Linked DNA regions of Homo sapiens: region 1 is linked to region 2. A link means that fine-mapping ties the variant in region 2 to the expression of a gene that starts in the linked region. Tissue or cell type: unexposed skin. Region 2 holds a variant in brackets; the other region holds the start of a gene. All regions are shown on one strand. Distances are between the middles of the regions.

Evidence for each region. PIP is the estimated chance that this variant, and not a neighbour inherited with it, causes the effect.
Region 1: SLC45A4 starts here. The variant in region 2 is fine-mapped to the expression of SLC45A4 in unexposed skin (GTEx, PIP above 0.99). The same link has a PIP of 0.9 or more in sun-exposed skin.

The regions. Positions count from the first base shown.
Region 1 is chr8:141,305,372-141,310,371 of GRCh38, reverse strand. It overlaps SLC45A4 (solute carrier family 45 member 4), which reads left to right and starts at 2,084. Exons shown (of 9, transcript NM_001286646.2): 1 at 2,084-2,276. RefSeq lists silencers at 1,849-2,088, 2,109-2,208.
Region 2 is chr8:141,341,038-141,346,292 of GRCh38, reverse strand. LINC01300 (long intergenic non-protein coding RNA 1300) reads right to left here. Exons shown (of 4, transcript NR_024441.1): 2 at 3,817-3,952; 3 at 3,078-3,335; 4 at 1,672-1,949. Among named protein-coding and RNA genes, the nearest start is that of LINC01300, 3.1 kb to the right of the region's middle. RefSeq lists enhancers at 1-446, 3,620-4,120. The variant C/G (reference allele first, on the strand shown) is at 2,622.

The DNA of each region.
Region 1 (5,000 bases), 36 kb after region 2:
TGCTCACTTATAGAAGAGGACTCAGGGAGGTTAAGTAGGCGCCCAGGCTCACACAGTTGGCTCACAGCACACCTGGAATTGCCGCTGCCTCTATCCTTTGGCCATTGAAAGAAAAATCACCAGGGAAGCAGATGTACAGTTTGAGCACTCATGATGTGTCTGATGCTGCTTTGGACTGTCTACAGACCATTGATGTACTTACTAACCCTCTGTTGAGATACTGCATACACATGGAAAAACACACACGTCTTTTTTTTTTTTTAATAGAGATAGGGTCTTACCATGTTGCTCAGGCTGGTCTCAAACTCCTGGGCTCAAGCAATCCACCCGCTTTGGCCTTCCAAAGTGTTAGAATTACAGGCGTGAATCACCGTGCCCCACAGGCACATGCATCTTGACTGCACAGCTGGAAAAGTCATCATAAACTGAGCACACTGTAACCAGCACTCAGACCAAGACACAGAACACAGCCAGCCCCCAGACACGTCCTCTGTGCCCTGCTTCCTGGCTCTGGCACCCCTCCCTCCAAGGGTAACCACTATCCTGACTGCTACCCCCATATACACCTTCTACCACTTTATCCACATGGAAACAAATATGGCTTTTTATCCTCTGGCTTCTTTTCCTCAACATCATTTGTGAGAGTCATCCATGTTGTTGTGTGTAGTTGATTATTCACTGTCATTGCTGTCATTCCACTGTGTGAATATATCACAATTTATGTATCCATTTAACGGCTGATGAGCATTTCAGTAGTTTCCAGTTTGGGGCAATTATAAACACTGCTGCTATCAACAGAAACACAATGTTAGGTGTGTATCTAGGAGCAGAATTGCTGGGTAATCAAGGCCTTTCAAAAAGATTTTGAAAGTTGTACCACTTTGCATGTCCACCAACAGTGTCTGGCAGTTCCAGTTGCTCCATTTCCTTGTCAACACTTGATATGGTCAGATTTTCCCATTTCCGATGCTCTTGGAGGCTCTGCTCTGCACTTCACTTCTAAATTCCTTTAGCAACAGGTGAGATGGATCTTACGATTTCTATTTTACAGATGAGGACGCCAAGGTTCTGAGAAATGAAGTAATTCCTCCAAAGCAACTTAAACCCTGGCAAGGGTGCAGGGCTGCGACGTTAACAGGGTTGGCCTCAGCCCATCACATCTGTCTGTTAAAGCCGCCTCCCCAGACCTTGTCTTGATGGGGTTTCCCAGCAGTCCTGCCCTAGGGATTGTGGCCCTTCTACACGTGGGGAGAGACGGATCAGTGTCCCTGGCCAGGGCCAAGCCTGAGAGGGAGGCCCAGCCTCCAGGAAGCTCCGGGTCGGGTCTTCGTCCTGCCCCGCTCTCCAGGTTGGAGAGGGGACCCGCAGAGCGCGGGGCGTTGGGGGAGTTGGGGACGGGGGCGTGGTCCGGGACCAGGTAGGAGGTCTTCGGAGGGTGGCAGGGAGGGGAAAACAGGAGAGTTTTCTCCTGCAGCGGAGGAGGGGCTGCAGCACCTGGATGGGGCCCATGTCGCCGCGCCACGGGCAGGGGCGGAGGGGGCGGGAGGGTGCTTGCCAAGGGGCTGGGCTGCCGGGGGCCGGGGCCTCGTGGCTAGCCGGACCCCTCTGCGACAGAGTGGCGAGAGGAGCGGGGAGAGAAGGTGGGGACAGGCGGGGGCCACCTCCTGCGGCTGCAGAGAGGGATGGGGTGGATTGCGGGCCAGCGCTTTAGGGGAGAGAGGGCGGACGCTCGGTGCGGAGGGGCCGGGGCCGGGGCCGGGGCCGGGGGCGTAGCGGGAGGAGGGCGGGGGCGGGGCTGGATTATGGCTGGGGGCGGGGCCATGGCGAGACGGGGGCGGGAGCCACGGTGCGCGCGGGGGCGGGGCAGGGGCGCGGCGGGGGCGGGGCGGCCGTTCGGGGGCGGGGTGGGCGGCAGCGGAGGCCAATGAGCGCGCGCGGCGCAGACCCCGCCCCCCGAATCCCCGTCCCGCGGCGGCGGGTGCTGCATAGTCATGAGGCGCAGGGGCCGGCGCTGCGTCAGCGGAAGCGGCGCGGAGCGGCTGTTTCCGACCCGATAAAGCGGCGTTGTCTCCGCGCGCCGGCCGCAGCCTCGCAGCGCTCTCTCCGCGCCCGCGTCGCTGACTGACCGCCCGGCCGGCCGGCCGAGGGAGCAGCCCCCGCCCGGACCCGCAGCCGCCTCCCGACCCCGGTGCGCCCGGGGCTCCGCGCCCCCGTAGCCCCTGCCCGGCCCGGCCCGGCCGCCCCGCCGCCCCCGCGGCCCCGGCCGGAGGAGACAGGTGAGTGGCCTGCCGCCCGCAGCCGCCTGCCCCGCCGCCCCCTGCACCTCGCACCTGGGCGCCGGGCACCTGCAGCCTCCCCACCCCCACCTCCCGCACAGCCTCGGCCTCCAGGTCGGGTCCGCGCCGCAGCCCCAGCCCCGCACCTTCTCCGGGGGAGGGGACGTGCCCCCACCCGGCTTGCGCTGGCTCCTCAGGGCCCCCCAATTCCTTCCCGCCTCCTCTTTCCGGATTGCACCTGCCCTGGTCCCCAGCCCTGCAGCCTCCCTCATTCCCCCCACCCCGGCCCCCACCCCGGGGCGCGCGCCTTCATTTGGACCCGGCCCGCTTTCGCACCCATCAGTCCTCCCCGCCCCCAGTTCCTCGGTTTCTCTACCCAGAGAGGAGCCTGGCGCCTCTAACTCCTGGTCCTGACCCTGTCTTGTCCTTCTAACCCCTGCCTGCTATCTCTAACTTATGAGAATTCAACCAGCGATACACCACTCGCGAAGTGGCCCCCTCTCCCCTCTGTCTGGACCGGTCCTCCCAACCGAACACACTCCCTTCTTCCCCTTCTTCCCCTTCCCTTCTTCCCCTCCTTTCCCTCTGCCCAGTGCACACACGACCCTGGCAGCACTGCTAGCCAGTGTCCCCCGCCTCGGACCCCCAGCCTGCACCGCCAGACTGTGGCTCTGCCCCGGTCTCATCGGCACTGCGCTCCCTTGTGTCCCTTTGAAGATACCTTGATTTCCTGAGACCGACCTTGTCCCTGGAGGAAAGAGGCCAGGGCATCAGTTCATCCGGGCCCAGATTCCCTGCTCTGTAGAAGTCCCCGCACCTTCTGCGTCTCAGCACCCGCTGCCCCTTTCCCCTTTGCGCTTAACCCGTTCCTCCCCCAGGTATCCTGCTCTGGATTGGAGCACTTCCAGCAGCGGCTTTTCCAGCGGAGGCGGATCCACACGGGGCCCAGCCTCCTGGTTAGCTATTCAGAATGATTCTAGAAGGCGGGGGCTAGGGAGGGCTGGGAAGGGCCGCTTGACCTCCTAAGGAGCCTGAGGTGTTTGTGTCTCTCCAGTGCGGGTCACTGATGGAGTGTGGCTTCAGGTTCACAGACCTAGCCACTGACCCCCATCTGATACCTCAGCTGACTCCAGCAAAACAGGGCTTGTCGTTTTTATTACTGTTTTGGGGGCTGTCTTTTCCAGTCTATGACCCGGAGCGAGGAGGGTTTACCAGATGAGTGATTGAACTAATTGTTGTGGGGTCAGATGATTCTTGTGGGCTGGTAGATTCTGAATCGAAGCCCATTTCTGCTGGGGAAAAGCCACTGCATCTGCCCAGCATTACTGAGAGCGCCCTGCGCTTCCATTCCCCAGACGGTCTCATCCTTCCTGTGTCATTGGCAGACAGGTAGAATGTGGTAGGAATCTTATCCTTCTGTTATTTTGTGCTGGCTTTAGGAAAAAATAAGAAAACAAAAAGCTGGAGTATTGGTGTACAGGTTAGGGAGTGTAACACATGGGGATCAGAGCAGGTAACACACACTGTCCTTAAAAGAAATGTATAGTGTCCTCACTTTTCTGCTAGGTTTGAATTATTGTTAAAAGAACGAGCAGAGATTATTTAAATGCTTGGGAGAGGTTTTGCAGAAGCCACTTGATGAGAAGAGGCAGCCCTGCAGGTTCCGGGTGGAGGAGACTCAGGCGCAGTAAAGAACTCATGTGTTTCTAGAGAGAGGCTGGGGAACTAGGTCGTCTTACACATCAAGGATTTCACACCCGTTCAGGCTAATTGTTTTTGTGGCAGTGGCTGTAAAGGAAAGAAGCAAATCGTTTGAAATGTGTTTGAAATACACACTGGGTATTTAAAGGTGTGTTTTTTTGGCCCAGGTGTTCACAGGGCGGGGAGTGGGGAGGCTGCCCAGGGCCACCTCCCGGGCCTCGTGGGGGGAGTGGCCTGCTGCCCTGCCGAGATGCGTGCTGCAGCTTTGGCCCTTGTCGCATCGTGAAAGCAGATCAGAGATTGGACTGGGTGAGCTCCAAGGTGTGTGTCTTGCAGCTTGTAACACCCTCTAACTTTGCTTATTGGAGGGGGGTGGGGGAGGGGCGGAGCAAGCCTGTAAACCGGATTCTGCCTCCTTTCCGTGAGCTCTGAGATCCCGCCCCAGCCCGCCCCGCAGATCTGCAGGGAAGGAGAGGGCTGCGGCAGCGGCAGCTCCCCACTTTCCCGATGGAGGAAAGGAGCCGAGGAAGGTATTTCAGCCAATCTTGAGGTTGCTTGGTGGTGAATGGATTGTATCTGTGTTGTCAGGAGAGAGGTGGGGAGGACAGAGGAGTGCAGCGCAGGGGTTCGGGCTGTGATTGTCGTTCTGACCGTGGTGCATCCCAGTGCCCTCTCCCGCTCTTCCCGAGGGTCCTGACGCCCAGTGGCTGGCTGGGGTGGTTTGTGACCAACAGCCTTGTGGCCTGGCACCGAGTGAGGGTGACTGACAAGCACTGTAGGTGGCAGACAACCCCAAATTGCCAGTGCCCTTCTTGGGAACACCCCTGGCAGAGTCGTGTCTGTAATTTGTGGAGGCAGAATATGCTGGAAGCCGCGTTCCTGCTAATGATGGGTGAGGACTGTTCCTCGCTGGCCTCCTAGGTTCCCCAGGTTTTCATCACTGCGTGATTATGCTGACGAAGGCGCACTTAGTGAAACACCATCAGAAGGGTTGTCTCCACCTGAGCCAGGAAACAGATTTGA
Region 2 (5,255 bases):
CGGCCATCCATGGTCCTCAGGTTAAAAACCTCATTCATCACCTGTGAGCCCAGAGAGGTCAGAGCCCCCCACCCCGAGTCACACAGCCTGGCAGCCGAGACCGCTGTGTGGGCAGGAGTGAGAAACCAGCCTGAGGGCTCAGATGTCCTGACAGGCAGTCCTGAGCATTGCCAACCAGATCACTGGCACCTGCCCCAAAGCCGGTGGCAAGGGAGAGAGTGCTTGGGTGTGTGTCACTCGGCGGTCTCTGGCCCCTTGGGTCAGGCAGAGGGGACAGGCCCCACCTGTAGGGACAGAGGGAGACAGTGACAGTGTCCAGTAGACCCTGGCCCGACAGCTGGGCCACGCCCCTGCCTGTGTATCCATCTGCCCCACTGTGGTTCAGCTGAGGGTGGACTGGCCTGGCAGGTGGGCACAAGGCCCGGGCCCCAGATTCCTGGAGAGGTCGGTGGGAACTCCTGTCAGGGGGCCCCAGGGAGCGGGCAGTGTGGCCACTGGGCCCTGACACCCTCTGGGGAGCCAAGGCAGGGCCAGGCCAGGGGTCTTTCCAGCCCACTCCCGCTCCCGGGCTCCGAGTCGCCTGCCAGCTGTCTCACTTCCTTCCTGTCCACTGGCCCGCAGGCCACCTGCTGCCACCTTCTCCAGCACTTGCTCTGCCTCACCCATAGGCCTTTGCTGGACTGCGGGAGGCCGGAAAGATGGAAACAACTCCAGAACCCCAGAACCTTGATTCTTTTTGTTTGTTTTTAGTTTTGAGGCAGGGTCTTGCTCTGTCGCCCAGGCTGGAGTGCAGTGGTGCAATCACAGCTCACTGCAGCCTTGACCTCCTGGGCTCAAGCGACAGCCACCCTCACCCCAATGCCCACAGTAGCTGGGACTACAGGCACATGGAACCATAGTCAGATCTTTTTTTTTTTTTTTTTTTTTTTTTTTACTTTTAGTAGAAATGGGGTCTCAACATGTTGCCCAGGCTGGTCTCCAATTCCTGGGTTCAAGGGATCCTCCTGCCTCAGCCTCCTAAAGTGCTATAATTATAGGCATGAGCCACTGTGCCTGGCTGATTCTTTAAACCAGGATTTGAAATCCTTTCTTCATATCTTGTCCCTGCAATAGCTAATAGTTCTAGAACCTTCTATCCATTCACTTCCCTCTTCCCCTGTGGCATGACCCCCACAAGTCTCTCACAGAGGAAGCCTCAGGCCACAGTGCTTACCAACGACCCCTCTAAGGGGACAAGTTGGGGGCCAGCCTGAGGGAAGGGGCTCCCACTGTGTCTGTGTGGGAGCCCTTGGGAGACGATGCTGGCCCAGCAGGGTGGGTTCTGGGCCTGTGGGGGAAGGTGGAGATGCCACACCTGAGAGCCAGCCCAGGGGTCCGTGGGGCCACAGGTGCAGGGGAAGGTGGACAGGACGAGTGGTCAGATACACTGCCCACCCCTAGGGCCTACCTGAGCCCATGCTAGGTACGTAGTGGGGCTGTGTTTGCGGGGCTGGGACCAAATCCCAGGTCCAGCCCTTGACTGTTGTGTGACCTTGGAGCAGGTGAGTTCACCTCTGTAAGCCTGTTTGCTCCTTAGTAAAACAGCCATACTCACGCTAAATTCTTGGGTGGTTGAGATGAAATTGTGGGAAAGGGACAAGGCATTCAACTTAGCACCACACACAGCCCATCTATCATTCAGCAAGCATTTATTGAGCACCTACTATAAGCCTTGGCATGGAATCAGGATGAATGAGGGACAATCCCTGCCCTCAAGGAGCCCGCAGCTGCAATCCCGGGCAGTGAGGGCCTGTCGGAAATGTAAGCTGGGCTCAACTGCCTGCTAGAGAGGTGGGGAAGGCTTTCCGGAGGAAGTGACATTTAGCTGGGTTTTGAAGGATGCGTAGGAGTTTGCATCTGGAAGGGCATCTGCTGCAGCAGGAACTGTCGGGGCAGAAGTGGAGATGCGGCTGTGTAGTGGAAGCACAGAGGCACAGGGGTCACAGGGCCTGGCCGGCTGGCAGAGGAACCTCAGGAAGGTCACCTCCCCTCTCTGGGCCGCAGTTTCCCTGTCTCTAAATGAGGATAAGCGCGCCCGCCTCCCAAATGGGACAGTGGCTGTGGCAAGCGCGGGGTGAATGCTAATGTTCCCTATTTAATTTTCCATGTTCTGTTTTGAGGCCAGTCAGGGTTATTTCTGTCCACACTCAACTATTTCCAGGCCCAGAGTCCTCCTTTCCCACAGAGGACAGCGCTGGGCCTGCCCCAGCCCACTATCTACTCCCAGGCCGTGGTGGGAGGCCAAGGGCAGGGGGCACCTGGAGAAGAAATGCAGACTCAGGATGGATCAGAGGCAGGGTGGGGACCCAGCCACCCCAGGAAGCCCAGGGCTCCAAGGGCCCCGTTTGGTGTGCCCAAGGCCGAGCAGCCCAGTTCCAAGCCCCTTTTCCAGGTGAGGTGGGACGGAGGCTCCCATGTAGTCAGGGGAAGAGAGCAGAAGCATTTACCACACCCCCCAGGACTGCCCCGCTGCTGCCCGGCCTGCCCAGGCGAGGAATCTCCCCATCCCCACAGCCACAGCCTGGTGTGCCCCACCCGGCCTCCTCCCTGTTCTCTCAGCTTCCCGGTTCCCACCATCACCC[C/G]CATTCTGGCCCAAGGGGCTGACCCTGGGGTGTGACATCAGGGAAGACAAGAGGTGGGGTTAGGGCGCTGCCTGACCTCCTACAAAACAAGCTGCCTTCCTGGTAGCCCTGGGCAGCTGGCCCAGGGATGGCCCATGGGGGCCCCGCCCTCCAGCCAGGTTACCTGCTGCTGGCCAAGAAGCTGGGGTGCTCTGGGCTGCCTCCCTGTCCCTTCTGCAAAGCCCCTGATCCCCACAACCTCTCTCCCACCCTGAGAGCCTGCCGGGGGTTCCTTCCTGGCCATCCCTGGGCTCAGCCTCCTTGTCGTGGGGCACAGGATTGGGTGGCAGGAAAGAACAGGGGGGGCTGGGGCTGGGGCACAAGGGGGGCAGGGAAGAGACACAGAGTGGAAGGTGGGGAGGGACAGGCACAGCTGGAGACGACAGTGTGTGGGGGCTCCGGGCAAACACATCTCACCTCCAGCCCGTTCTGAGCAATCCATCAGTGTGGCTGCCCCTGGAACGTGCGGGGGCACCAAGGCGGAGTTGCAGAGGCTGTTACTGATATGTGTCGTGGGGTGAGTCGGGGTGGGGGACGCATATCCCCACTCAGAACTCTGCATCGTAGATCCCATGCGTCTTGACACCTTCGTCTGCTAACATCTAGAAACCTTAGCATTTGAGAACCTTCAGATCCAAGGGTTCTGAGAGCTTAGAATTGTAGGATTTGTGAATTCTAGAAACAAAGGCAAGAAGATCACCCGTAGGGTGTCTCCTCTGCTCATGCAGCCTGGAGGGACCTCTCGGTGATCCCCGGCCGACCCCTCCCCAGCACTCAGCCCAAGAACCAGCCTCAACCACCTCCCTTCCCAGCTCAGCCTCACCTGCTGCCCAACCTGCAATACCTCCTCCCATCTCCCATCCTCAGACAGCCCATCCCTCCTGCAAGGTCCAGTCCGAAGTCGTCACCTCCCCCAGGAGGCCCACCCGTCCTCCTCAGCCCAGCCTGACTCTCAGGATCAGGCTCACCCTGCGGAGGCTGAAGCCACCAAGTCATAGTCCCAGTCCCAAGGGGAAGACAGGCCTGGAGCAGGGAGAGGTGTGGGCAAGAACACAGCCTCCGTCCCACAAAGAGGAGTTCAAACCCCCGCTCCAGCCCAAATGGCCCGGGCAGTGCCCTCACTCGTCTGCTTCAGCAGCCTCACCCGACTACTCACGATGGCTGCAGGTGGAAACTGCCCACGCATCTCTCAGCAGCTGAAAGGATGACTCCACAGTGGACGATTACTCAGGTGTAAAAAGGAGCAAAGCACTGGCACATGCGATAATGCGGAGGGACCTGAAGCCACCGTGCTAAGTGAAAGAAGCCAGACACGAAAGGCCACATGGTGCTCACACCTCCAGAGATGTCCAGAACAGGCAAAGCCAGAGACAGAGCACAGACGTGCTAGCCAGGGCTGGCTTCCTTGGAGGCTCCCAAGGAGAATCTGTTTCCCTGCCTTTCCAGCCCCTGGGGGCCCCCCTGGACTCCATGGCTATGGCGGCGGGTGCCAAGGCCCTGCAGCAGGGCACGACCACCAGGACCCATTGGGAATTGGCATCTGACTCCCTTCCACCACCCCGGGTGCCCCCACTTAGGAAGAGCCGACTCTCAGCAACTGTGCCCAGAGTGGCCTGGCCCATCAACCATGTGCCCCCTCAGCCTTCCTGCAGCCATTCAGAGACAGCAGTAAACACTCCTCCATCCCAGTGTGTGGGCCCAAAGCTGAGATCCCAGCCCAGGTCTCCCAGCTCACAGCCCTGCCCAGGGCCATCCTCCTGCTAGACGTCACCACATCAATGAGCATCTACCCCGTGCAAGGAAGAGGCCGGCGATGGGGTCCAGGTGAGGGGACAGCCAAGCCCACCAGGCGGTGGCCTTCCCTCACCTGCCCATTCTGGGCTAGGTCAGCTCTACCTGGAGCCTGAGCCCAGGCCCCTCCAGTGCCCTCTGCTGACTGCAGCAGACTGACCACCCTGGAGACCCTCCTGCCCCTGCCCCGAGACCCTCCATGCCACCCTGCCTCCAACCTCTGTCTTCTGCCCCCATTGCCCCTTCATGGTCCTGCAGGCCGCCCATGCTCTGTAAATCCAGCCCACCTGGGCACCCCGTGAGACCTCGGACCCGTCACATCCTGGTCCCTCCTCTTCCCCCACCCCCACATCCGACTGGCACTCCCTTTGGGCAGCTCCATCCGGTGGTGTCCTCTCTGAGTCCCAGGGCCTGCATCGGGTGGTGTCCTCTCTGAGTCCCAGGGCCTGGCACTCAGCAGGCCCTGGGGACATCAACCAGGGGCCCTTGAAGCTGTGTCCCTGGACACAGTTTCCCTGCCCCAAGCCCTGGCACATTCGGCCCAGGCTTGGCAAAAACTCCTTGTCCTCCAAGGACTCGGCTGCACCAGCCACTCAAATAAATTGATGTTCCCATCTCTGCTGACTCATGGATGAGAACATCGGGGCTCCTGCCAATGGCCACACACACCCCCAGCCCCACCAGGGAATAGCCCTGCACCCTGCAGGGACAATGTCATGAGCCTGAGAAGCCACCAGCTTCCCCTACTCCGTGAGCACCAAACTCCAGCCTGCTTGAGCTGTTGGGGGCCCCCTGCCTTGGCAC